7 linked regions of the Homo sapiens genome follow. The protein of the gene in region 1 purifies or fractionates together with the protein of each later gene. This does not show direct contact. Each region holds a gene or a part of one and is shown in the gene's direction. Other genes may lie near its edges. The genes, in order: ATP1A1, DDX27, NDRG2, DHX15, TSPAN5, DDX21 and CCDC86.

What was found.
Region 2: the proteins of ATP1A1 (region 1) and DDX27 purify together in Homo sapiens (affinity purification with mass spectrometry, with the first as the bait; one large-scale study listed by BioGRID). This does not show direct contact.
Region 3: the proteins of ATP1A1 (region 1) and NDRG2 purify together in Homo sapiens (affinity purification with mass spectrometry; one large-scale study listed by BioGRID and IntAct). This does not show direct contact.
Region 4: the proteins of ATP1A1 (region 1) and DHX15 purify together in Homo sapiens (affinity purification with mass spectrometry, with the first as the bait; one large-scale study listed by BioGRID). This does not show direct contact.
Region 5: the proteins of ATP1A1 (region 1) and TSPAN5 purify together in Homo sapiens (co-immunoprecipitation; one large-scale study listed by IntAct). This does not show direct contact.
Region 6: the proteins of ATP1A1 (region 1) and DDX21 purify together in Homo sapiens (affinity purification with mass spectrometry, with the first as the bait; one large-scale study listed by BioGRID). This does not show direct contact.
Region 7: the proteins of ATP1A1 (region 1) and CCDC86 purify together in Homo sapiens (affinity purification with mass spectrometry, with the first as the bait; one large-scale study listed by BioGRID). This does not show direct contact.

Annotation. Positions count from the first base shown.
Region 1 is NC_000001.11:116,400,744-116,404,243, forward strand, and holds part of ATP1A1 (sodium/potassium-transporting ATPase subunit alpha-1), read left to right. Parts: intron 1-117; coding exon 118-263; exon of another isoform or gene 264-386; coding exon 387-517; intron 518-810; coding exon 811-912; intron 913-3,140; coding exon 3,141-3,232; intron 3,233-3,500. UniProt on the Homo sapiens protein: This is the catalytic component of the active enzyme, which catalyzes the hydrolysis of ATP coupled with the exchange of sodium and potassium ions across the plasma membrane.
Region 2 is NC_000020.11:49,239,916-49,243,415, forward strand, and holds part of DDX27 (probable ATP-dependent RNA helicase DDX27), read left to right. Parts: intron 1-1,977; coding exon 1,978-2,072; intron 2,073-2,167; coding exon 2,168-2,291; intron 2,292-2,678; coding exon 2,679-2,766; intron 2,767-3,500. UniProt on the Homo sapiens protein: Probable ATP-dependent RNA helicase. Component of the nucleolar ribosomal RNA (rRNA) processing machinery that regulates 3' end formation of ribosomal 47S rRNA.
Region 3 is NC_000014.9:21,019,167-21,022,061, reverse strand, and holds part of NDRG2 (protein NDRG2), read left to right. Parts: intron 1-182; coding exon 183-245; intron 246-1,217; coding exon 1,218-1,278; intron 1,279-1,479; coding exon 1,480-1,566; intron 1,567-2,085; coding exon 2,086-2,142; intron 2,143-2,319; coding exon 2,320-2,423; intron 2,424-2,895. UniProt on the Homo sapiens protein: Contributes to the regulation of the Wnt signaling pathway. Down-regulates CTNNB1-mediated transcriptional activation of target genes, such as CCND1, and may thereby act as tumor suppressor. May be involved in dendritic cell and neuron differentiation.
Region 4 is NC_000004.12:24,543,055-24,546,554, reverse strand, and holds part of DHX15 (ATP-dependent RNA helicase DHX15), read left to right. Parts: intron 1-3,500.
Region 5 is NC_000004.12:98,648,612-98,652,111, reverse strand, and holds part of TSPAN5 (tetraspanin-5), read left to right. Parts: intron 1-3,500. UniProt on the Homo sapiens protein: Part of TspanC8 subgroup, composed of 6 members that interact with the transmembrane metalloprotease ADAM10.
Region 6 is NC_000010.11:68,959,170-68,962,669, forward strand, and holds part of DDX21 (nucleolar RNA helicase 2), read left to right. Parts: intron 1-636; coding exon 637-1,080; intron 1,081-2,912; coding exon 2,913-2,988; intron 2,989-3,500.
Region 7 is NC_000011.10:60,845,113-60,848,346, forward strand, and holds part of CCDC86 (coiled-coil domain-containing protein 86), read left to right. Parts: intron 1-2,811; coding exon 2,812-2,941; intron 2,942-3,234.

The DNA of each region.
Region 1 (3,500 bases):
CAGGGGGAAACACTCCTCCATATGTGCTCTCCCAGGCCTGCTGCAGTAATCAGCTGAAGGCTATACAGGTACCCTTGTGTGTGAGGTTCTAGTAATTGGGTTGTTTTCCCAACTTAGGAATGATCCAGGCCCTGGGAGGCTTCTTTACTTACTTTGTGATTCTGGCTGAGAACGGCTTCCTCCCAATTCACCTGTTGGGCCTCCGAGTGGACTGGGATGACCGCTGGATCAACGATGTGGAAGACAGCTACGGGCAGCAGTGGGTGAGTGGGCACCTCTGACCTGACCAGTGTCAGAGCTCCTCAAGCCCCAGAAGACTGAGGCCACACTGCCACCAGCCATGCAGGTGAAGAGCCAGAGCTCATCTTCTGTCTTCTGCATTTCAGACCTATGAGCAGAGGAAAATCGTGGAGTTCACCTGCCACACAGCCTTCTTCGTCAGTATCGTGGTGGTGCAGTGGGCCGACTTGGTCATCTGTAAGACCAGGAGGAATTCGGTCTTCCAGCAGGGGATGAAGTAAGTAATGAAGGACATGTCAAGGCCTTGGCTCAAAGAAGGGGACTGGTGATTTGTAAACCCTTTGCCAAAAACTAAACATATGACACATATAGCCAGGTTTCTGGAATCTCTAGTTTATAGAGCAAATTTAGGAAGCAAGAAATGTAGCTTTCTAGTTTTTTCATCTGACCTCCAAGTTTTCAAGTACAGCTAATACATAAAGATGTTGATCTGCCATTTTAATGCATAGCATTAGAAGATAAACCTTTATTTGCACCTTTTAAGTTTTTTCTCCCCTACTTTGATTTTAGGAACAAGATCTTGATATTTGGCCTCTTTGAAGAGACAGCCCTGGCTGCTTTCCTTTCCTACTGCCCTGGAATGGGTGTTGCTCTTAGGATGTATCCCCTCAAGTAAGTTGATCCTCTGGTAGCTCCAAAAAGTATGAAATAGTATGTGTGGCTTTTCCCCCCATTACTTGTGGTAATAGTTGTTATTTTCAGAATTTTGAGTGGTATGTACAAAAATTCCTATGGGTTGGAAAACTGTGAAAGCTTGACATGTCAGTAAATCAGACTAACAAATCCTGAGGCTTCCATGATAGCAGCTAGTGTTTAGGATTTGGCCCAAGATAAGATAAAGCCACACAGGCTCTAGCTCCATGGAACTGCTCAACAGCGAACTGCATTGAGCACTCAGGTCTGCCACAGCTGTAGTCCAGTTGTCTTTAGAGGCCAACTGGGGGTATGCTGGAGCGTAGGCGCCCAGGCTCAAATCTTGATTTGCTTGCTTAGTCACTGTCCCATTACAAGTCATCCACCTTTCTGAGACTCTGAATACTCTGCTCTCAAAGAAAGAAGGTTGGAGAAACAGATCTGAGGTCCCTTTTACTTTATAATCAGTCATGGGTAGAGTTGATCAAAGGAAGCATACTGCTAGTCTTTGGCCTTAAACACAGTGAATGACTCTGCATTTCAGATAAACTTGAATTTTCAAAGAGGGTTTATCACAAACTCCGTTAGTTTTTTGCAACATTGAGTATGTTTGGTGATACCTGGTTGAGGTTAAGCAACTGCAACTTGATTAAAACGTGCAAAGCCACAGATTGTGGGACCCATTTACAAGTTCCTTTGAAGCTTTTGATTTAAAGCATTAGTCTCCTTTGAATTCCTGCTGTCCTCATCCTTGCTCAGACCCGTCTGGACCATCTCTCAATCCCCTGTTGCCAGCACTTCCTTCAGCTCATCTTATCCCTAAAGTAACCAAAACCCATCAGCCTCATTCACTTCCTGTGGGTTATGTGCAGACATCGTCTGTGGTGCAAGATGAGACTGGCATCCAGAGTCAGTCTCATTGTCCCAACCTGTCTTTATAGCTTTCTCTTGTACCCCTTACCCATCCAAGCTCATGTTAGGTGAATTCGGCTTTCTTCCTCTGCCTTTGTGTTTGGTAAGATCCTTCCTCCCCACATCCCTCCTTCTGTTCCCTCTTACCCTGCCAATCCTGATAGTCCCTTCAGGGCCGGTTTCCTTGGAGCTTGTCCCTCCAGGGCCTGTGCACTTGCACCTCTTCTCTGGCATTACTTGTTGCTTGTCATTTCACCTCCCTGCTAGGTTTTAATCTAGAAGGCATGGGCCACAGTGTCTTTCTTCTCTGTGCATCCCCAGCTCCCTACACAAAGCTGGTGTACAGCAGGGGCCAGCCATCTCCAAATTGAATTCTGTCAGCTTGGGCCATTATGTATCAAGATGGGGCTTGGAGAGGTCACAGAGCTTTCCAAAAAGGCTGGTGGAAAATTACACTGAAAAGGGGGCATTTCCATCTTCTGGGTCCTTCCCTGGTTTTTTTGCCACCACCAAAGAGATTGTTCTGACAGGTTCTGCCCAATTTTGGAAGGTGGTTCAGTTATTCGGTGACTGAGTCAAATGAGATCATCTCTCTTAGCTGCCTTGTCAGACACACAGGAAGAAGAGGAGACCACCGGAGTCCTGCCCAGGGACAGCCTTTCTCACACCATAGCAGGGAGCTGGTGATCACGGAGGCTGCCTGGAGCCTGTCAGCAGGCTAGAGACTGTGTGGCTCAGCCTCCAGGCCCCTTGGAAGCCTTCGGGCTCAGCTTTTTTCAGTCCCCAGGACCAGGCCTCAGAACACAGAGCTGATATCCCAAATGCTGTTGTCAGAGATCAAATTTGGGGAATGCATAAACTGGTTTTGACCCACACTGGCAGGTCTTTATCTTCAAAATGCTGGGATATTAGGCAGATGGTCTTAAAAAGCTTCTTAAACACTTTAGAAATGAAAGAAAGAAAATGTTCAGTTGCTCTGGGATGGTTAACAGAAAAGTACTCTGCTCATCCTATAAACCAAGTCTTATGAAATCCAAACTGAAGATGAGTAGGGATTCCATTACAAAGTCTGCAGACTGATTTCCTCTGCGTCTCTAGGCCCTGGGCACATGGAGTAGCAATCTGTTTTAAGACATTTTTATTTGTTCTGTTAATGACTCAGTAGTTAACTGTGACTGTACTTGGCTTCTCCTTTCAGGCTGATTATTTCATTGTCACTGGTGATGTGCAATTTCTCTTTCTTTATTTGAACTGTGTTCGTGTGCATATAAATTGGTACCTTACTCTATTTCCAGACCTACCTGGTGGTTCTGTGCCTTCCCCTACTCTCTTCTCATCTTCGTATATGACGAAGTCAGAAAACTCATCATCAGGCGACGCCCTGGCGGTAATTATGGGCATTCTGACTTTGGTTGGAGGAGGAGTGGGAGGGGCTATAGTTCTATTGGTTTTTTGTTTCCCTCAAGGTGTCTAGGCTCCCTCAGTGGTCAGTCTGATTAGCTAAGGTGACTGGACCAGCAAACTGACCATAGTCACATCTTCAGAATGTAGATCTCAGTTACAGTTTGAGGACTGGTCATGTTTTAGACTTTAAAATACAAACCAAGTATGATTTAGTGAAAACTTGTCAGAATCTAAACCATCTTTCCAGGTAA
Region 2 (3,500 bases), on another chromosome or scaffold:
AAGGATGAACCTTGAAAATCTTAAGCTGAATGAAATAATCCAGACACAAAGGGACAAATACTGTCTGATTTCACTTACCTGAGATATCTAGCTAGGCAAATTCACAGAGACAGAAATAGATTATAGATTACTTAGGGCTAGGGGAAGGGGGGTTATAGGAAATTATTAGTGGTTGCAGAGCTTCTGTTTTCAATGATGTCAGTGAGTAGCCTCCTGATAGGAGTTTTGGAAACAGATAGTGGTGATGGTTGTACAATGTTGTGAATGTAAGTAATGCCACTGAATTGTATACTTAAGATTGGGTAAAATGGCAGCCTTTGTTTTATATGTGTATATATAACCACAATAAAAATAATTTTAAAAAAGTTAGGAGATATTTAATACAGATTTCCTCTCCATCTCCCTTTAAAAAAGACCCAAAACACTTATAAGTTCACATTGTTCTATGCCTCGCCTTTTCACTTAATTTTGAAGCTTAGAGATATGTTTTATATAGGCCCACATATGCTGCCCTTTTTGTTTTTTGTTTTCAGACGGAGTCTTGCTCTGTCACTGAGGCTGGAGTGCAGTGGCGCAATCTCGGCTCACTGCAAGCTCTGCCTCCTGGGTTCACCCCATTCTCCTGCCTCAGCCTCCTGAGTAGCTGGGACTACAGGTGCCTGCCACCGCACCTGGGTAATTTTTTGTATTTTTAGTAGAGATGGGATTTCACCGTGTTAGCCAGGATGGTCTCGATCTCCTGACCTCGTGATCCGCCTGCCTTGGCCTCCCAAAGTGCTGGGATTACAGGTGTGAGCCACTGCACTCGGCCCCCTTTTTGTTTTTTTTAATGGCTTCATGTTCTTCCATCATATGAGTAGATTGTTGAGGGACATTGAGGTTGTTTACAATCATTTGTCATCCAGCCTGGGCAGCATGGCAAAACCCCATCTCTACTAAAAATCAAAAAATTAGCCAGACATGGTGGTGCATGCCTATAGTCCAACTACTTGAGAGGCTGAGGTAGGAGGATCACCTGAGCCTGGGGAGGTCAAGGTTGCAGTGAGCTAAGATTCTGCCACTGAACTGCAGCCTGGGCGGCAGAATGAGACCCCGACTCAAACCACCACCACCAACAACAAAAAACCCAAAAAATAATCATTTGTCATTACAAACAAGTGATGTAGGGAATAACCTTGCACATATGCCCTTTTACAATTAAGCAAGTGTATATTTGGCTTGCAGGATTAATTCCTAAAAGTGGAATAGTGGGTCAGAGGATATTTGTATTTCTAGTTTTGTTAGAGGTTGCAAAATTTCCCTCCTAGAGGGTATACCAGCAGTTTTAGAAATGCTGTCTATATTTGATGGGACAAAATAAGGGTGTATATAACTTAAATTTCTGATAAAAATAGAGTTATAACTGTATTGGTGGGTAAAGTAGTAAAGTGACCTAAATCTTCATCCTTCATAGCAGGAGGTTTGTAATGAGTATCTTAAGTGGATTGAGAAATAGTCAAAAAAGCATGTTATTTAGTGAGATGGAGGTAATCAGTGGAAGAAGTGCTTGCGGCTTTTCTTTTCTTTTTTTTTTTTGAGGCAGGGTCTCGCTCTGTCGCCCAGGCTGGAGTGCAGTGGCGCGATCTCAGCTCACTGCAGCCTCCCCTTCCTAAGTTCAAGCAATTCTCTCACCTCAGCCTCCCAAGTAGCTGGGATTACAGGTGCACCACCATGCCCAGCTAATTTTTGTATTTTTAGTAGTCGGGGTTTCACCATGTTGGCCATGCTGATCCCAAACTCCTGACCTCAGGTGATCCACCCACCTCAGCCTCCCAAAGTGCTGAGACTACAGGCACGAGCTACTGCACTCGGCCAAGAAGTGCTTGCCGCTTTTCATTTTAATCTGCTAACTTACCAATTGAAAACGTGCACTTCTTATCGTAAGCTTAAAAAAAGATAAAATCATCCCTGAAATCTTATGCTTTCTTCTCATCCCAGTTGCCAAAGCTCTGCAGGAATTTGACTTGGCCTTAAGAGGAAAGAAGAAAAGGAAGAAGTTTATGAAGGATGCCAAAAAAAAGGGGGAGATGACAGTGAGTGGCCTCCCTTTTGGAGTTTGGGCCCACTCGGTGGGGTGGGTCAGAGTGGCCTGGTGTGTTCCACACTCACACCTCCCCACTCCCCCTAGGCAGAGGAAAGGTCTCAGTTTGAAATCCTCAAGGCGCAGATGTTTGCTGAACGGCTAGCGAAGAGGAATCGCAGAGCCAAGCGGGCCCGAGCAATGCCCGAGGAGGAGCCAGTGAGAGGTCCTGGTAGGTGAATGGGGAGCCCAAAGGAGCTTGTACAAGGTTTTCCCTGAAACCTGTGCTTTGGGTCAGGGAGAAAATCTGAGGGATGATGACAGTAGCCCACATTATTTGAGTAATTAGTATGTACCAATGTGTACAGCTATCCCTCCACGGTCTAAGGGGCGCAGTGACCTTGTGGTTGTTGAGAACTAGGATTTGAACGCCAGCTTTTCTGACTCCGGAGCCTAAGGCCTCACCAGCTGCTACTTGGAGGAGCTGGTGAGGACAGAATGAAAATAGTCTTTGGATGCCAGAGTATCCACTGAACTTGGAATCATTACCTTGAACTTAAGGGGATTTAGGAGCTTGGGCCAAAGACAACCATATGTAACCCATTCTCTCTGTGCACAGCCAAGAAGCAAAAGCAGGGGAAGAAATCTGTATTTGATGAAGAACTCACCAACACAAGCAAGAAGGCCCTGAAACAGTATCGAGCTGGGTAGGATTTTAAGTCATCATGGAGCCCTTGGTATTCTTTTTTTTTTTTTTTTTTTTTTTGAGACGGAGTCTCGCTCTGTCGCCCAGGGTGGAGTGCAGTGGTGCATCTTAGCTCACTGCAAGCTCCACCTCCTGGGTTCAAGCAATTCTCCTGCCTCAGTCTCCCAAGAAGCTGGGACTATAGGCGCACGCCACCATGCCCAACTAATTTTTGTATTTTTAGTAGAGATGGGGTTTCACCATGTTTGCCAGGATGGTCTCGATCTCTTGACCTCCTGATCCACCCGCCTCAGCCTCCCAAAGTGCTGGGATTACAGGCTTGAGCCACCGTGCCCGGCGAGCCCTTGGTATTCTAATGGAAGCTATGAGTCTTCTGCCTCCTTCCCCATTTCCAGTTTTTGCACACCTATAGCTTTATACTATGTAAATTCAAGGGTACCTGTCTGTTCTCCACCCCCCACCCCTCTCAGAGCCACCTGAGGATCCCAAGGTGAGAACAGGAGAGGGGTGTTCAGTTAGCACTGTTCCTGCCTTGGAGGTGAAATAGTACATTGTTGGGTTCAGAAATGGAGCTTTCCTTCAGGGGAGTGATAACTCTTTCATCTCAAGTTCCATCCTGCAGAACCCCAGAGAATCCTGGCTTGCTCTTAGGAATATGTTGTCCCACACCATTTTCCCCAGCCCAAGGTTGGGGCAGGGGCAGACTAAGCTTCCCAAGTAGTGGTATATACCTAA
Region 3 (2,895 bases), on another chromosome or scaffold:
GTAAGAGTTAGGTCGTTACTGCTTCACCAGACTGTGAGGAACAGGACAGGTGCGGGAAAGGTTCGACTGGGGAGGAGGAAAGGGAGGGCAGTGGTTATTCTGGGAGAGAATGAGTAGGACATCCTGAGGTGGGGGGTGTGAGGGCAGGTTGGTATCTTCCTTAACATGCCTCTCTTTTCCAGATATCAGTACCCATCTCTGGACCAGCTTGCAGACATGATCCCTTGCGTCCTGCAGTACCTAAAGTGAGAGGCCTGGGAACCCCTCCAAACCAGAGTTCTCTTTCCAGCACAAGGAGACCCTTAGAACTTCCAGGTTCACCGTGGTTCCTGAGCCAGTTTCAGCTTCTGAACTCAATATATCTTCTTCCTTCATGCTCCCGCCTTGATTATTGAGAAAAGGTGGTGGGTTTGGAAAATTGGCCAGAGTCAACAGAATAGCCCTAATGGGTGGAGGGAAGGAAAAGGGTCTATGCTTGGCCCTGCCTCAGGCTAAGGAGGGCCTTCTCTGATCAGAAAGTCAGGGAGGAATGAAAGGGGGTGACATAATCCCTGAGGAACCAGATAGACCTGTCTCTTTCTCTCCCACTCCCCTCTCCTTCATGCCCACACCTGGTGGATGGGGAGCTCTGCGGGTGAGAGAGAGTTGGGGAAGGAAGAGAACACCAGACCAAGTGTCTTTGGTATTCAGAGGGAGGTGCTGGCCCCTGGGTGCTGTTCTTAGCTAAGCTTCTCCTAGGCACCAGGGCTCAGCAGCTCTGGTTCACCACTTTGCCACTCTTTTCCTCATTCTCTCCATTGTTCACTAAAATTGTGTCTGTTTTCACATTTGCTTTAAGTTCCATTCTTCCCGTTCCTCTAGAGGAACCAGGAACTAAAGCAGAACAAGTTGAACTGGCTCTTGAAAATTGAGAATGGACAAAGAGCTATCTATATGGGAAAACAGTGTGTTGGTTGGCTGGTGGATGGGTGTTTGTTTTTAAGACACTAGCTCTCCAGCAGAAAGCTGGGGATAGACTTCAGGTATCTACCCTGACTACCCGTGCCAACCTTTGGCTTCTTGGGCCCTTCTTTTTCGCGTCCTCCAAAGAAAGGTCCGTGTCTGCCTTTCTTTGTGCCCGTGGACTCAGGAGGGAGGGTGAAGAGTTTGAAGAGATGGGCTGTGGCAGGTTTTGGACAGCAGATCCCATGAGGCGTATATTTCTTTCCCTTTCACAGTTTCTCTACAATAATTGGAGTTGGTGTTGGAGCTGGAGCCTACATCCTGGCGAGATATGCTGTAAGAAATAAAAAGCCCAGAGGAGGGAAAGGAGGGTCCAGACTGATTAGGAGAATACTGTTTATTAGTGCTGTTTGGGGGAGGAAGTGGGCACTAGGTGGGGAGTCAGGCCCTGTGGGAGTCCAGGAGTGGGTCGAGCTTAGCGGGGAGGGGATAAGGCCATGCCCTGTTTCTCATTTCCTTCCTTCTGCTGTCCCTCAGCTTAACCACCCGGACACTGTTGAAGGTCTTGTCCTCATCAACATTGATCCCAATGCCAAGGGTTGGATGGATTGGGCAGCCCACAAGGTTTGGAGGGGCCTGTGTGCTGAGACCTACGGTTGGGGATCCCCTCGTATGGATCCAGTTAGGCTCTGGTAGATAGCCTAACTGGATGGACTCTGAACTTCAAGGAGGGAGTAAAGGGGCAGGAAAGTGAAGCTGTCACTTTGCCTGAGTCTCTTATAATATCCTGAACTTTCTTTTTCTTTTTCTTTTTTTTTTTTTTTTTGAGATGGTGTCTCACTCTGTTGCCAAGGCTGGAGTGCAGTGGCTTGATCTTGGCTCACTGCAACCTCTGCTTCCTGGGTTCAAGTGATTCTCCTGCCTCAGCCTCCCAAGTAGCTGGGATTACAGGCACCCGCCACCACGCCTGGCTAATATTTGTATTATTAGTAGAGATGGGGTTTCACCATCTTGGCCAGGGTGGTCTTGAACTCCTGACCTCGTGATCCACCCGCCTCGGCCTCCCAAAGTGCTGGGATTACAGACGTGAGCCACTGTGCCTGGCCAATACCCTGAACTTTCTCACCTGCCTTCTCCTCATAGCTAACAGGCCTCACCTCTTCCATTCCGGAGATGATCCTTGGACATCTTTTCAGCCAGGTAAGTGGGTGTAGGAGATGTAGAAGAGTCGACGGGAGCAGCAGGGAACTTGAATGCTTGGGCTAACTTCCTTAGCTGGGACAGGATTTGGGGAAGGAAGAAGGCTTACCTCTTTTCCTCCAGTAATTGTTGTTTTCTCTTTCCATCCCTAATTTTTCTCCTTGTTCTCTCCTTCAGGAAGAGCTCTCTGGAAATTCTGAGTTGATACAAAAGTACAGAAATATCATTACACATGCACCCAACCTGGATAACATTGAATTGTACTGGAACAGCTACAACAAGTGGGTGGGCTGTGTGTGTATGCATGTGAGAGAAATGCAGAAGCAGTAATTGGGCGTCATGGGGGAGGCACAGAGGAGGAGAGGGAAGTCTGGGTAGTGTGCAATGTGCAAGGAATGCAGCATTTAGTGTGCAATGGGGGCAGCTTCAGGACAGAGTCAGTGGGAAGGATTGCAAGGGGCTGTCCCCCTTCTCTTGTTTACCTCCTTTGGATTATTGGACTCCCAGAAGTAAGATGATCTTGTGTCCTGTGTCCTTCCTCCCCTTTTGTTGCCCTCTGACCAGGGATCTAGGGCACAAGTGACTATAGGGGCTGTGCTTGGGGCCTGCCTGCCCCTTTCTCCTTTGGTTTCCACCTTTAATAACCAAGATTTGACCGTAATTTTTAGACAAAGATAGTTCCATCATGGGAGAGATAGCTTATATCTGGTTAGATAGCATTGCCCACCTAAAATTCCTACTCTTTTAACCCCT
Region 4 (3,500 bases), on another chromosome or scaffold:
AAGTTTATTCAAGTATTTGACTAAGTTAAAAGTTACAGTAATTCTTTACATGCATTCAAGTTTACTCTTCAGTAGATAACTTCTGCATTTTTTGACTGAGACTTAAAATTGCTATTTTGTGGATTTGGTTGTTATTAAAATACAACTATAATTATTTTTTAAATATTTAGTGTTCATTAATTTTGTTCATACAAATAGCTGACTTTTCTATAGTTGATCCTACATTTCGCTGATTAATATGGTTCAGAGCATACATTGCTCAGTGAAAAAGAGAAATGGCCCTTGTGGAGATGGTCCTGTAGTTTTAAAGAAAGACTTAATGATCCAGGATCTGAAGATAGCTTACTGTGGTGCTGCTGGGATGTTTATAAGCAAATAAGTTGATGTCCTTGTGTTGGAGACCACCACAGAGTTCCCTGGGGACTAAAAGTCCAAATTAGTTTAAATGCATTATTGTGTCCAGACAGTATTCAGGTAGGGCAAATGAAGTACTGCGAGTTCTACTTTGAAGTGGAGTTATTGGGGGCGGAGTGGGGGGAAGTGGTTCTATTAGAAAAAAAGTGAGTTCTATTAGAAGGCAGGTTATTGAGGGAGGAAAATTTACTCTTAGCATGTCCTGACAGTGATGCCAAGCTTTTCACCATAGGGTCTGTTCCATATTAGTCAATGCGGTTTGAACACTTTTTAAGGCTCTTTGAACGCTTACTGCAGTGTTGCAGTCTAGAAAGCATGTAACAATTATATTGATTCTTACTGGTCATAATGTAAATCCCTTGACAAATTCAAGGTCATTTTGTCTCCTGATGGGTTCCTGGTTGTATGGTGTGCCATTTACAATTAGAACATGGTTAGGGCTTGCCTCACTCAACTGCTGAAGTACCAAAGAAGCTTTTATCTTGTCATTTATTAGTTCGCTTTTGCATTGTGTGTGTGTGTATTTAGCCTTAGCTATTTTTAGTCCTTGAGAAAGGCCTAAAACTTGTGCTTTTTTGTTAAGGACTCAATTTAACACTTGTATTTTAGGGTTTGACTTTTGGCTGGCAATAGGCTCTTACTAATATCAATAATGACGAGGGTTTGCCAAGTTGGCATAAATCATTTGATTCTTAAACACTTGCAGAATCATGTATCCGCGAATTGTTAAGTATTACAGAATTTAATACACTCACCCAGACAAAAAACATACACACAGGATGAAATTATTTTGTGGAGAAAAATTAACTTTTTATAATGGTAACTAAAGAGTTGGTCACATGAGAAATTTTTATCACATTGTATTATGTTATAGAAGAAATATGTGAAATGTATTTTTTCCCAGAACAACTTTTTTAAAAGTGATTTTCTTCATAAATATTTTCAGAACTATGGTTTTCACCCCAGAATTCCAGAAAGCCAGAAGACGTCTTCTGTATTTACAGGCATGTAGTTGGTTCTGTATAGATTTGAGATAGGGTCTCAGTCTGTTGCCTAGGGTGGAGTTCTGTGCCATGATCATAGCTCACTGCAACCTGAACCTCCTGGACTCAAGCAGTCCTCCCACCTTAGCCTCCTCGGTAGCTGGGACTACAAGCATGTGCCACCATGCCTGGCTAATTTCTTTTATTTTTTTGTAGAGGTGGGGTTTTACTATGTTGTCCAGGCTTGTCTCAAACTCCTGGACTCAAATAATCCTCCTTGGCCTTTTTAAGTGCTGGGATTACGGATGTGAGCCACCATGCCTGGCCTATTCTGTATAGTTTATAGAGCATTTCCACATCCTTACATAATTTATTCCCTACAACCCTGTGTTATGTAGACTAAGTAATATGCAAGTTATAAAAGGAATACAAGCTTGGGGGTGTTAAAACCTTTCCAGTTACTTTAGCCACTCAGGTTTGATTGCTAGGTCTGCCAGTTACCTCTAAATTCATCGCTTCTTTAACTACAAGAAACTGACTTTCTAGAATATTAAATGCCGGTTATGCTTATTCAAGTTTCACCTGTTAACCTTATGTATGTCGTTGTTTGCTTCAGTTCTAGTTGCTGATTATTTTTCTAAATGTCCTGAAGAATGTATTTCAGCAACATCATCAAACCACATGTGGTTTCTTATTCCTTTGCTAGTTGTCAGTCTTTTCAACTGACAAAAGGAAACATTTTGGTTTTTGACTTGTAAATTATTCTGAAATACCCTCTTGGTAGATTGCTATTATGTTTTTAAATCCCTGAGGTTTCCTGTTAGTATTTTGGGAAGTCTACTACTTAGTAAATATGAAATCAGAAAATGAAAGTGTTAATATTAAGTAAAATAGTTAATGCAGCAAAAGCCTATGATTTTTAAAGCTATTTGATTTATAAAATTAAGTGTTTTTAAAATAAAATAGGGATAAATATAAATCTTTTCATTTTTTGTATGTGCCCATAGGCATTTCTCCCACATGTGTTTTTTTAAGATGGAACTTTAGTGCTAGTGCTGTTTCCTTCTCTCATGAGTAGGTCTTAACCTTACCGTCAAGGACTGTCCTAAATGCTATTATTTTTCAGTAAAGCTTTTCTTGACTTTGCTATGGAAGTAAACCTTTTTAAATTTCACAGTGTGTCTTTGGTGCCACTCACACTTTCTATCCATGTCTAATCATCCCTTACAAATGGTAAAAGCAGACTCTGTTTGATTCATCTTCTGTATCAATTGCTTGCATATACAGACATCTTCAACTTAATATCAGTAACCTGTTCCTGAAAATCATGTCCTGAGTTAAAATACTAATGAGGAATCCCCATTTCCCATTGTTTAAAAAAAAATTATATGTAACATGTATTTCCCAAGTCCTTAACTAATTTTCTAAAACATATGTAATATATAGTAAAACATGCACGTATACCAAACAAGCTATCATATTAGTATGTAAATGCTTTAAACATTTTCCGTCAATAAAGAATTATAGTTCTTAACAGTTGCTTTGTATGTAGTAACGTATTACATGTCATCCCGTTGAGACCATGCACTTACCGAAATATTTACATTTGATTCTGCTGATCTGTCCATTCTTACTGGATTATAACTTGAGTTTTTTTCCATGTGGCATTTTGTTTAAAATGTTGAGTTGAATTTTGGTGATATAAATAACGAAGTTTTCATTTGTAAATATTGCCCAAAAACATTGAAATATACACTTGTGGAAATTTGAATACTAATTATAAGGGCTGTTTTATCAGACGTTTTGTAAGGCACGTTATATTGCTTCATCAGTATTTTTCTTTTTATGCTGTCCATTAATTTGATTAAGCAAAATGTAATGCGGTTGAGTGATAACCTGAAGTAATAGCTTTGTTGAGAAAGAAGTTGCTGTTGTGGTGTAAACAAAATTTTGGTTCCTTAAATATTAATTTACCTTTTTAAAGCATTGGCCATTGAAGATCAAATGATATTTCTAGTTTATTTGCTGGCTTGAAATTCCTTGTGTCAGTGAAAGTTAGTGGCTGATCTTTAACAGTCCTGTTAATTTTATTTGATATGTAAT
Region 5 (3,500 bases), on another chromosome or scaffold:
GAGGCTGGAGGATGGCTTGTGCCCAAGAGTTTGAGACCAGCCTGGGTAACATAGTGAGACCCTATCTCTACAAAAAAAAATTAAAAATTAAAAATTAGCTGGGTGTGGTGATGCGTGCCTGTAGTCCCAGCCACTTGGGAGGCTGAGGTGGGAGGATCACTTGAGCCTGGGAGGTTGAGGCTGCAACTGCACTCCAGGGTGACAGAACAAGACCCTGTCTCAAAAAAAAAAAAAAAAAAAAAAAAAAGTATGTTGAAGGAAAGAATTACAAAATCATCAGAAAGTACGTAGGAATCATCTCCTCTAACTTCCTAGTCAGTGAAGCATTCTCCATTGTATCGTGCCTACCTTTCTAAGCATGGATCTGTTTTTGGACCACTTTAATTGTAGAGTTTCATCTGTTCAAACTAGATGTTATCTGTCTCCCCATCATTTCCATCCTCCTAATTTACTGTTCATTTAAAATTTTTATTTGGAAACATTAAACCAATAGGAAAATTGCAAGTAGTATAGAGAACCTGTTTTTATCCTGTTTGAGACAAAGTTGCCAGCATGTTGGCTATCACACAAACAGTTGAGTATGTATTTTCTGTAAACTGGACTATTCTCCTAGATCACCACAGTACAACCATGAAAGCCAGGAAATTACCAATGATACATTAACACCATTTAATCCTTAGATTTCATCCAAGTTTCCCAGTTGCTCCCATAATGTTTTAAAGCAAAAGAATTCAGGTCAGAACCACACTTTGTATTTAGTTACATGTTTTTAGTCTCTTTCAGTCCTTCACTATCATGCTCTTGATACTTTTGACAATTATAAGCCAGTTATTTTGCAGAATGTCCCTCAGTTTGTGTTTGTGCCATTTTCACAAGCTTAGATTCAGGCTGTGCATCTTTGGTAGGAATAGTACAGAAATGGTGCTGCGTTCTCATTGTACCCTATCAGGGTGGCATTGATTTCTGTTTGTCCCATTACTGATGATGGTCACTTGATCAAGGTGTTGTCTGCCAGGCTTCTCTACCATATAGTTACTCTTTTCTCATTTGTAATTTATAAATGTTTTATGGCAAATTACATTGAAACCATGTAAATAGCCTATTCCTCATCAAATTTTCAATCTGTTATTTATTTATATCAGTAAGAACTTAGTGTCTTCCTTTTTTCAGTGTGGTTTAATGTTACTGTCATTACTTTATTTAAAATGGCCCTAGGTTTGGCCAGTGCAGTCTTTTCACATTGGCTCCTGTGCTCTTTTAACTCCCATCAGTCTTTGAGCACCATCTTGCTCTCTGGCAGAATAAGATGTTCCAAACTCATTTTGTGATTTACCTGTGTCATCTTTTGTATCAGACATTTCTCCAAGGAGCTATTGAATGGAGAATGGAATTTAGAAGCCAAGATCTGGTTGCTTGGTGTGCTCATTGCTATTAGGGTGTTGCTACTCTGTGTATATACAGACACACATGTACATCTGTAATTCTGTATCTATGTACTTTTAAAACCATGAGTTTACAGTCATACCTTAAATTCCTGTCTGATACCACAGGGTTTAGTTTTTCCTCTCCATATTTTATAACTGCTTTATTTGACAGTGAGATTCTTGGTTCGCATTATTCTTAACAGTTTACTTATTTGGTAAATCTCCCCATATGTAACCAATCTTCTGCAGCTGCCACCACCTTTCCTCCTGGGGCTGCCCTCCTCAGCTGTTAGTGCTCTAGCATCCTGTGCCACCACCCCCATCCCCATATGGATACCTTTCTCCCTGAGATACCCTGCTCTGGGCTTCCACAGCATCCCTCTTCCTACGTTTTTGTAAACGTAGGAAGCCTACCAGATTGGACCTACCTAATGGCTTTGAATTTTCAGGAAGGAGAAGGCGAAGAGCCTCGGCTACTCTTGAATGATGTAAAATAAGACTTATCTTCCTTCCCCATGGTCCTTCATTATTTAAAAATAGCCATTATGTCATTCCTAAACATTCTGTTTTCCACCTTTAAAAGCTCCTAGTTCCTCCATGTGTTTACACTAATGATGTTTTTCTTGTAAGCATCTCAAAGAGTCTTCCAAACATATTATATCTTTGTGACAGATGAAGAAATTGGAGTACAGAGATGTGGAGTAACTTTTGAGATGTTGAAGAGCATGTCAGGGTTCGGTTTTAGAGTGTTAGGTCTACATATACTGTTTCCAGATTGTTCTTTGCCCTGGTCACGGTGCTCTGCCTAGGGTCCCATTTGGACACACCTCTATTAATGCAGCAACCAGAATGAAACACGTTGTTCACAGGCTTTTCTAACCATCCGAAGAGCAGCAGGCTCTTGAACTCTCCCTTCAGTCCCTAGGCTGTGCTGTGCCTGGTGGCAGAAGCCTCTGCTACTGTCTGGAATTGACTTTGAGTAAGTTACTTTCACAGATTAGTTCCTCAGTTGCTCATCTAAAAAAACCAGGAAAATAATTTTCTGCAAAGTTGTTATCCAGTATTATGTGAGATCATGCATATCAACGTGCTTCATAAATGGTAAATCTCTAAATACAAATACTAGTTATTAACCCAGGCTAAACTGCACTTGCTTTCCCTGGCAGCCAACGAACACTTTGGCTTGGATTGACTTTTTAGTGAAATAAAACCTTCACTTTTTCAAGTGAACTCTATTAAACCATCCCCCTAAGCTATATGCTAATCAGAAGCCCTAACCCTCCAGTTAATTATTTGAATTTAGATTTAGTTCTGTTTATTTCTCCCATTTAAATGTCTTATTCTGGCCCATTGGATTTCAAACCTGCTACCAGCAATCCTAGGCCTCCTTGAGGCGTATGTGGGTGGGTGGGTCTGTGCTGGTGGGGTGTGGACTGAGCAGTACCTCTCTTTCCTCCAGAAAAGCTTGGTTATTAGTTTGATATTTTGGGATACTAAGAAAGATTTTGCTTGAAAAAAGGGGTCCCACCACTTAAGAAAGAAAAGAACCAGTATTCTAGCCTTTAGATGTCTTTGAATCTTGATGGCCAAAGTACATTTTTAAAAAAATTACTCCTCGTGTGGGTTTTTATCTCTTGGAATCTCTCCATGCATGGGAAGTCCCTCTCACTAACTAGGGGTCACTTCTGTAGGATTAGTTGATATTTCACCCCTTTATGCATGTAGTGTGGCAGCCTGATTAGTAAGGAAATTTCAGTCTTCCCACTGGGAGATCTGGTTCAGTAGGTCCATCCAGGATGGGGTCCTGGAATTTCTGTTAAGAAAAAAATCAAAACTTCCTGCAGGTCATTGTGATGCCCAGCTGAGTTTGAGAAGCTTTAGCTTGTTTTTCTTGGGAAGATGTGGCCTCTCCTTCCCGTTGCTCCCTGGAGGGGATGTGTGGGAGAGCTGGGCGTGGGTGGTGTAGAGCGGTGACCATTTCACCAGCACATGAAGCTAGTGTTCTTTGCTTACGAGAAAAAAAAGGTGGCCTATTTTATCCCTCATGGAATTTTTTATTAATCCAAAAACGCCAGT
Region 6 (3,500 bases), on another chromosome or scaffold:
GTATCCCATGAGCTTATCCAAATCCCTTATGAAAATCTGGTTTATAGGCCAAGCACGGTGGCTCATGTAATCCTAGCAGTTTGGGAGGCCGGAGTGGGTGGGTTGCCTGAGCTCAGGAGTTTGAGACCAGCCTGGGCAACATGGGAAAACCCCACCTCTACTAAAAATACAAAAATTCGCTGGGTGTGGTGGTGGGCGCCTGTAGTCCCAGGTACTCGGGAGGCTGAGGCATGAGAATAACTTGAACTCAGGAGTGGAGGTTTCAGTGAGCTGAGATTGTGCCACTTCACTACAGCCTGGGCGACAGAGCGAGACTCTGTCTCAAAAAAGAAAATCTGTTTTACAACTGTTTGACCCACATGAGTTGAATAGTTACTAAGGGGCACTCTTCATTTTCCAAGATAGTGAAACTATTGATATATACCCGTCTATATATATAGCTAAGAAGCGATTTTAGAAAAAGCTTACTATTTTGATTTTTACCTTATCACAGCATGAAAGTACAAATGTCGAAATGCCCCAAAATTGTATTTTTTAAAGTTGAAAATGATCTTGAAATAATCCAGAATTGATGAATGTTGCAAATGTATAAATGCCTTATTCAGTGTTTGTATTTTCCTTATGAATTTTTTTTAGAAAGAGAAAAAAGAGAAGCCAAAATCTGATAAGACTGAAGAGATAGCAGAAGAGGAAGAAACTGTTTTCCCCAAAGCTAAACAAGTTAAAAAGAAAGCAGAGCCTTCTGAAGTTGACATGAATTCTCCTAAATCCAAAAAGGCAAAAAAGAAAGAGGAGCCATCTCAAAATGACATTTCTCCTAAAACCAAAAGTTTGAGAAAGAAAAAGGAGCCCATTGAAAAGAAAGTGGTTTCTTCTAAAACCAAAAAAGTGACAAAAAATGAGGAGCCTTCTGAGGAAGAAATAGATGCTCCTAAGCCCAAGAAGATGAAGAAAGAAAAGGAAATGAATGGAGAAACTAGAGAGAAAAGCCCCAAACTGAAGAATGGATTTCCTCATCCTGAACCGGACTGTAACCCCAGTGAAGCTGCCAGTGAAGAAAGTAACAGTGAGATAGAGCAGGTACATTTGCACTTCATTGGGTAGAAGATATCTTTCATTGTTGTTTCAGATAAATAAGTAGGTAACTGCTATATGTACTCTTTAATAGTAGGAGAAAATGTGATGTGTCAGCACCTTGTGGGTTGGGGGATACCTTAGGCTGACTGGGACTTCATCTTAAAAATTAGCATACGACAGGGCATGGTGGCTCAGCTAAGAGTACTCTGTCTTTTTTATTTTTTTATTTTTTTGAGACAGAGTCTCGCTCTGTCACCTAGGCTGGAGTACAGTGGCACGATCTCAGCTCACTGCAACCTCTGCCTCCTGGGTTCAAGTGATTCTCCTACCTTAGCCTCCTCAGTAGGTGGGATTACGGGTGTGTGCTATCACGCCTGGCTAATTTTTTGTATTTTTAGTAGAGGCGGGCTTTCACCATGTTGGCCAGGCTGGTCTCGAACTCCCAACCCCAGGTGATCTGCCCGCCTGGGCCTCCCAAAGTGTTGGGATTACAGGCATGAGCTACTGTTCCCAGCGGACTCTGTCTTTAAAAAAAAAAAAAAAAAAATTAGCATAGTGTCACAATGCCTCCTTTACAAATAAGCAGATACTGCTTAAGCTTAGGGAGAGTCTTGGTCTGCTTATTTGCAAGTCAGTCAACAGAAGAGATACAGTTTTGTAAATGGGCCCTAGTTTCCCTCTGAGGGGTTTAACCAAATAAATTATTGGAATTACTGAAAAGGTTGATTGCATAAGTCCTTTTGGTTAGGCCATTAAGTAATCATCCTGGAGTTGAACAGGATGATAAAATGTCTGTCCAGAACCTAATTCTGTTATCTTTCAGAAACTCAGTTATGAAAGAAATACGAATTGTATTAAAAAAATTTGTTTTAGACATGGGATCTCGCTGTGTGGCCCAGGCTGGTCTAGAACTTGTGGCTTCAAGCGATAATCCCGCCTAAGCCTCCCGAGTAGCTGGGATTACAGGCACAAGCCACCACACCCAGCTGAAAAATACTAATTCTAATAGATTTTCTTTTTGCTATAGATCATGGTCAACATTTGTAACTTTTTTCCTGATTATAAAAAATATGTGATCCAGAGAAAATAGAAAATGCAGACATTTTGCAAAAAGAAAGAAATGCTTCCTGGAATTTCACCATTCATTTAGTAAATATTAATACCTGTACTTTTCAAGTACAGAAGTCATCTTGTTAATTTTTGGTGTTTCCTTGTAGTACTTTTAGTATATGCATCTATTATTTTTAATCAGATTAGGATTGTACTGTGCAATCTTGTATCTTTTTTGTTTCTAGCTAAGCATTTTCCTCGTTAAGTACGCTTAATGGTTACATAATCCTTCATATAAATGTCTTGAAATCTACTTACTACTTGTATTGAGCATTCAGATATCTTACTATCAAATAATGCCACAGTGACTGCTACCTCATAAAATGTTTGTTCATTTTCTATGGATGTGTGTATACAAGAGATGCTGCTTTGGAAGAGGGCTAATGACATTTCCATCAGTATATTGTTGATTATGGTTATGGAGTAGATCTTAGTTGAGATCTAGTCACACATAATCTTAGTTGAGATCTTAGTTGAGATCTAGTTACCCAGTATATATTTGCCTCAGATTTTTCTTTTGTTAAAGTTTTATAGATTTATGACAATGTTTCCTTTTCAGATCTCGAGTTACCTATCAAGGTTTTTGTATCTTTTTGGTTGATTTTTAAAGTGATGTGTTTAGAAGAATTGCTTTAGGATAGCTTGTTTTGTCTCTTTCTCAGAAGGTTCTCTATTAATTTGTGTAGGTGATTATTGATTTCTTTCTATGGCCCTTTACTTGATAGGAAATACCTGTGGAACAAAAAGAAGGCGCTTTCTCTAATTTTCCCATATCTGAAGAAACTATTAAACTTCTCAAAGGTAATGTTCTTGGAAATATCGTATGATGTTAGAACGTATTATTTTAACAGAAGCACTCCACTATTTTTGTTAAGATGAACCAGGATGTATTCTTATTGTAGGCTGATATATGCAGTCATATAATGAAGTAGGCCTGTGTATTCAATTTAGTACTATAGTAGTGATGGTTCTTCATGCTTCTTAAACAAGTGGTTAAAGCTTTTTCAGGCCCTCTGTGGTGGCTCACACCTGTAATTGATTGAGGCCAGGAGTTTGAGATCTTCCTGGGTAACATAGTGAGAACCTGTCCCGACAAAAAGTTTAAAAATTAGCTGGGCACGTGGTAACACACATCTATAGTCCTAACTACTCCAGAGGCTGAGGAAGGAAGATCGCTTGAGCCCAGGAGTTCAAGGCTTCAGTGAACTGTGGTCACACCACTGCACGCCAGCCTGGGTGACAGAATGAAACCCTGTCTCAAAAAAAATTGTATTTAATACAGTGTGTATTCAGAAGTGTATTGACTAATGGTG
Region 7 (3,234 bases), on another chromosome or scaffold:
GGAAACAGTATCCAGGCAACAGGAAAGGGATGTTCAGAGGTATTGAGGCGGGAGCAAGCTCCCGTTTGAGAGGCTTTCCAGAGGTCTCGCTGCTGGAATGAGGGGGAGAAGGGGAACAGTAGGAGATGAGGTCAGAGAGACAGCAGGACCTGGTGACCCTTACAGGGACTCCCGGCTTTCCTGAGTGAGCTTGGGAGCCATGGAAGGGTGTCAAGCAAAGGAATGAAATGACCTGACTTGTGAGATCAGCCTGGCTACTGAACACAGACATAGGCGGGCAGGGGTGAAGGCAGGAAAACCCACAAGGAGGCTGTCTCAAGAGAACTAAAACAGCTTCCGAAGCTGCAGGCAAGTCTGTGGCGAGGGGCCCAGCAGGGCCACTGAATGGATGTTTGGGATCTTTGAGGGAGCAGCTTCGGTGGGTAGTAAGTGAGCCTGGAGATGGGTGGGAAGCAGCTCCTGCTGCAGGGAGGAAGACAGCCGCAGCTGGGAAAGTGTATGTGGTGAGGGAGACCTGGCTGCAGCCCTGTCTTCGTGCTCATGCCAAACGCCACTTTCTCCATAGTGCCCTTGGGCATGCTGTCTGCCTTCTCTGAGGAGTAGCATTTATGGAGCACCTATTACGTGTGTGTGTCGATTAAATCTCCCACCACCCTTTGGGTTAGGAATGATTCTCATCTCCACTGGACAGGATGCTGAGACTTAGAGAGGCTACCTTGCTCCAGGTCACCCAGGTTGGACTTGGAACCCAGGCCTGAGTTTCCTCAATACCCAGGTAGAACCAATGGTCTGGAACTGCCCTGCCTCAGTACCTTAGCCGCCAGCCACATGTGGCTATGTACATTTAAATTAATTAAAATTAAATAAAATTTAAGATTCAGTTTCTCTATCAACACCAACCACATTTCTAGCGCTCAGCAGCCACCCATGACTAGTGGCTACCTTATTGGACAGTGTCAATGTGGAATGTTTCCACCATCACAGAACGTTCTGTTTGACAGCCCTGCTCTACACAGATGCAGCACTGTGTCTTGTGGTTCTGTGTGTCTCTAGGCTCCCAACACCTTGTCCCTTCAGGGTTCTCGTACCCCAGCTTGGGAAGCCCAGCTTTACAGTTATGGGGGAAGTCCATGTGGCACCCCATTCTTAGTGCTTAGGAGGCCAGGCCTTCAGTGGCAAGGCCTTGGGAAGGGGAGAAGGAAATCAGGGAGCTGGGGCCAGAAGTCGGCAGGGCCAAGGGACACCAAAATGGGCCTTGAATCTTTAAAAGAGAAAGACCTAATTTCAGCATGTGGAGGCCACCGAGAGACTTCTTTGCATTTTGTTTTTACTTTTTTTGAATGGAAATTTTCAAGCATACAAAGAAAGAGCAAAGCTCTCAAGTCCCCATTATCAGCATCAACACAGCTCAGCATTTTACTAGTGTAGCTTCATCTTTGATACTTGGCTTTTTTTTCTTTTTTTCTTTTTTTTTGTTTTGAGACGGAGTTTCATTCTTGTTGCCCAGGCCAGAGTGCAATGGAGCAATCTCGGCTCACCGCAACCTCCGCCTCCTGGGTTCAAGCGATTCTCCTGCCTCAGCCTCCCAAGTAGCTGGGATTACAGGTGTGTGCCACCACACCCAGCTAATTTTGTATTTTTAGTAGAGACAGGGTTTCTCCATGTTGGTCAAGCTGGTCTCGAACTCCCGACCTTAGGTGATCGGCCCACCTCAGCCTCCCAAAGTGCTGGGATTACAGGCGTGAGCCACTGCGCCCGGCTGATCTTTGGCATTTTTTTTTCCCTGAAATATTTTAAAGTACATCCTAGACATATCATCCCATTCATAAATCCTTGTAGTATGCATTTTTACAGAGATGAGCTCAGTTCTCCTGTAACTCTAAAATCATCGTTGCTCTTTTCAGATTTCCCTGAGAGCCCTGATGCCCACTTCATCTCCAACTGGGGGAAGAGATTCTTTTTCTTTTTTCTTTTTTCTTTTTTTTTTTTGAGACAGAGTCTTGCTCTGTCACCCAGGCTGGAGTGCAGTGGCGCGATCTCGGCTCACTGCAACCTCCACCTCCCAGGTTCAAGCAATTGTTGTACCTCAGCCTCCCAAGTAGCTGGGACTATAGGCATACACCATCACACCCAGCTAATTTTTGTATTTTTAGTAGAAACTTTAGTAGGTTTTAGTAGGCTTAGTAGGTTTTGCCATGTTTGCCCGGCTGGTCTCCAACTCCTGGACTCACGTGGTCTGCCCACCTTGGCCTCCCAAAGTGCTGGGATTACAAGCATGACCACTGCATCCGGTCTTGGCGGGGAAGATCCTGAATCATTACCCAGAACTTTAACCACTCACACTGTTCTGAAATGGAATGGGCCACCTCCCTAGGGGGTGAGCGCCCCGCCTCCAGAGGCATTCACACCCGGGCCAAATGCACTTGGCGGAAGCAACAGAACTTTACAGCAGGGGCCGCGTAGCCTGGACTCTGCAGTCGCTGACAGGATTCAAGTCCTGACTGCCACAAGGTATCTTTAGGCAGCTATTTAACCTCTCCGCGCCTTGGCCTGCTCCTCTGTAAGTGGAGAGGATAGGAGTACCCACCTCAGAGGCATGTAGCCAAGGCTTGAGAAATGGCAGCCAGCACGATCAGGGTTCCCTCCCGCCCCAAGTTTCTGCAGCCCTGGAAGGCCGCCTGTCAGGCCAGCAAGGAGGTGGTTCTGCCTGGGCTCTGGGGAAGAAGGTCCAGAGCCTCCGGCCGAGAGGAGACAGGGCATGGGTGGCGCTTGCCCCACAGACCCTGTATGCACCCACTCTCCCCCTTTCAGATTCTCCCAGATGCTTCAGGACAAGCCCCTGCGCACATCGTGGCAGCGGAAGATGAAGGAACGACAGGAGAGGAAGCTGGCCAAGGACTTTGCCCGTCACCTGGAGGAGGAGAAGGAGAGGCGCCGCCAGGTGAGGGGCCAGCCAGGCTGAGGCTGGGGCTCAGAGGACTAAGCTAGTGTCTACTGGTACAGACCTGAGGCGAGGGCCTCCACGGGTGCCTGGGGGAGGCCGACTTGGTTAAAAAACGTTCTTGAATCTGAAGGCCGGAGGGAGGAAGGGCACCTGGCCAGAAGCAGAAGTGCAATCTGGGACTACAGGGCAGGGAGGCCCAGGGGACCATACAGTTTAGCCTGGGCTGCTGAAAGAGCCTCAGGGACAGGGACGGAGGGGGAGGACCAGAAGCGGGCCTTGGGGAGAAGCCC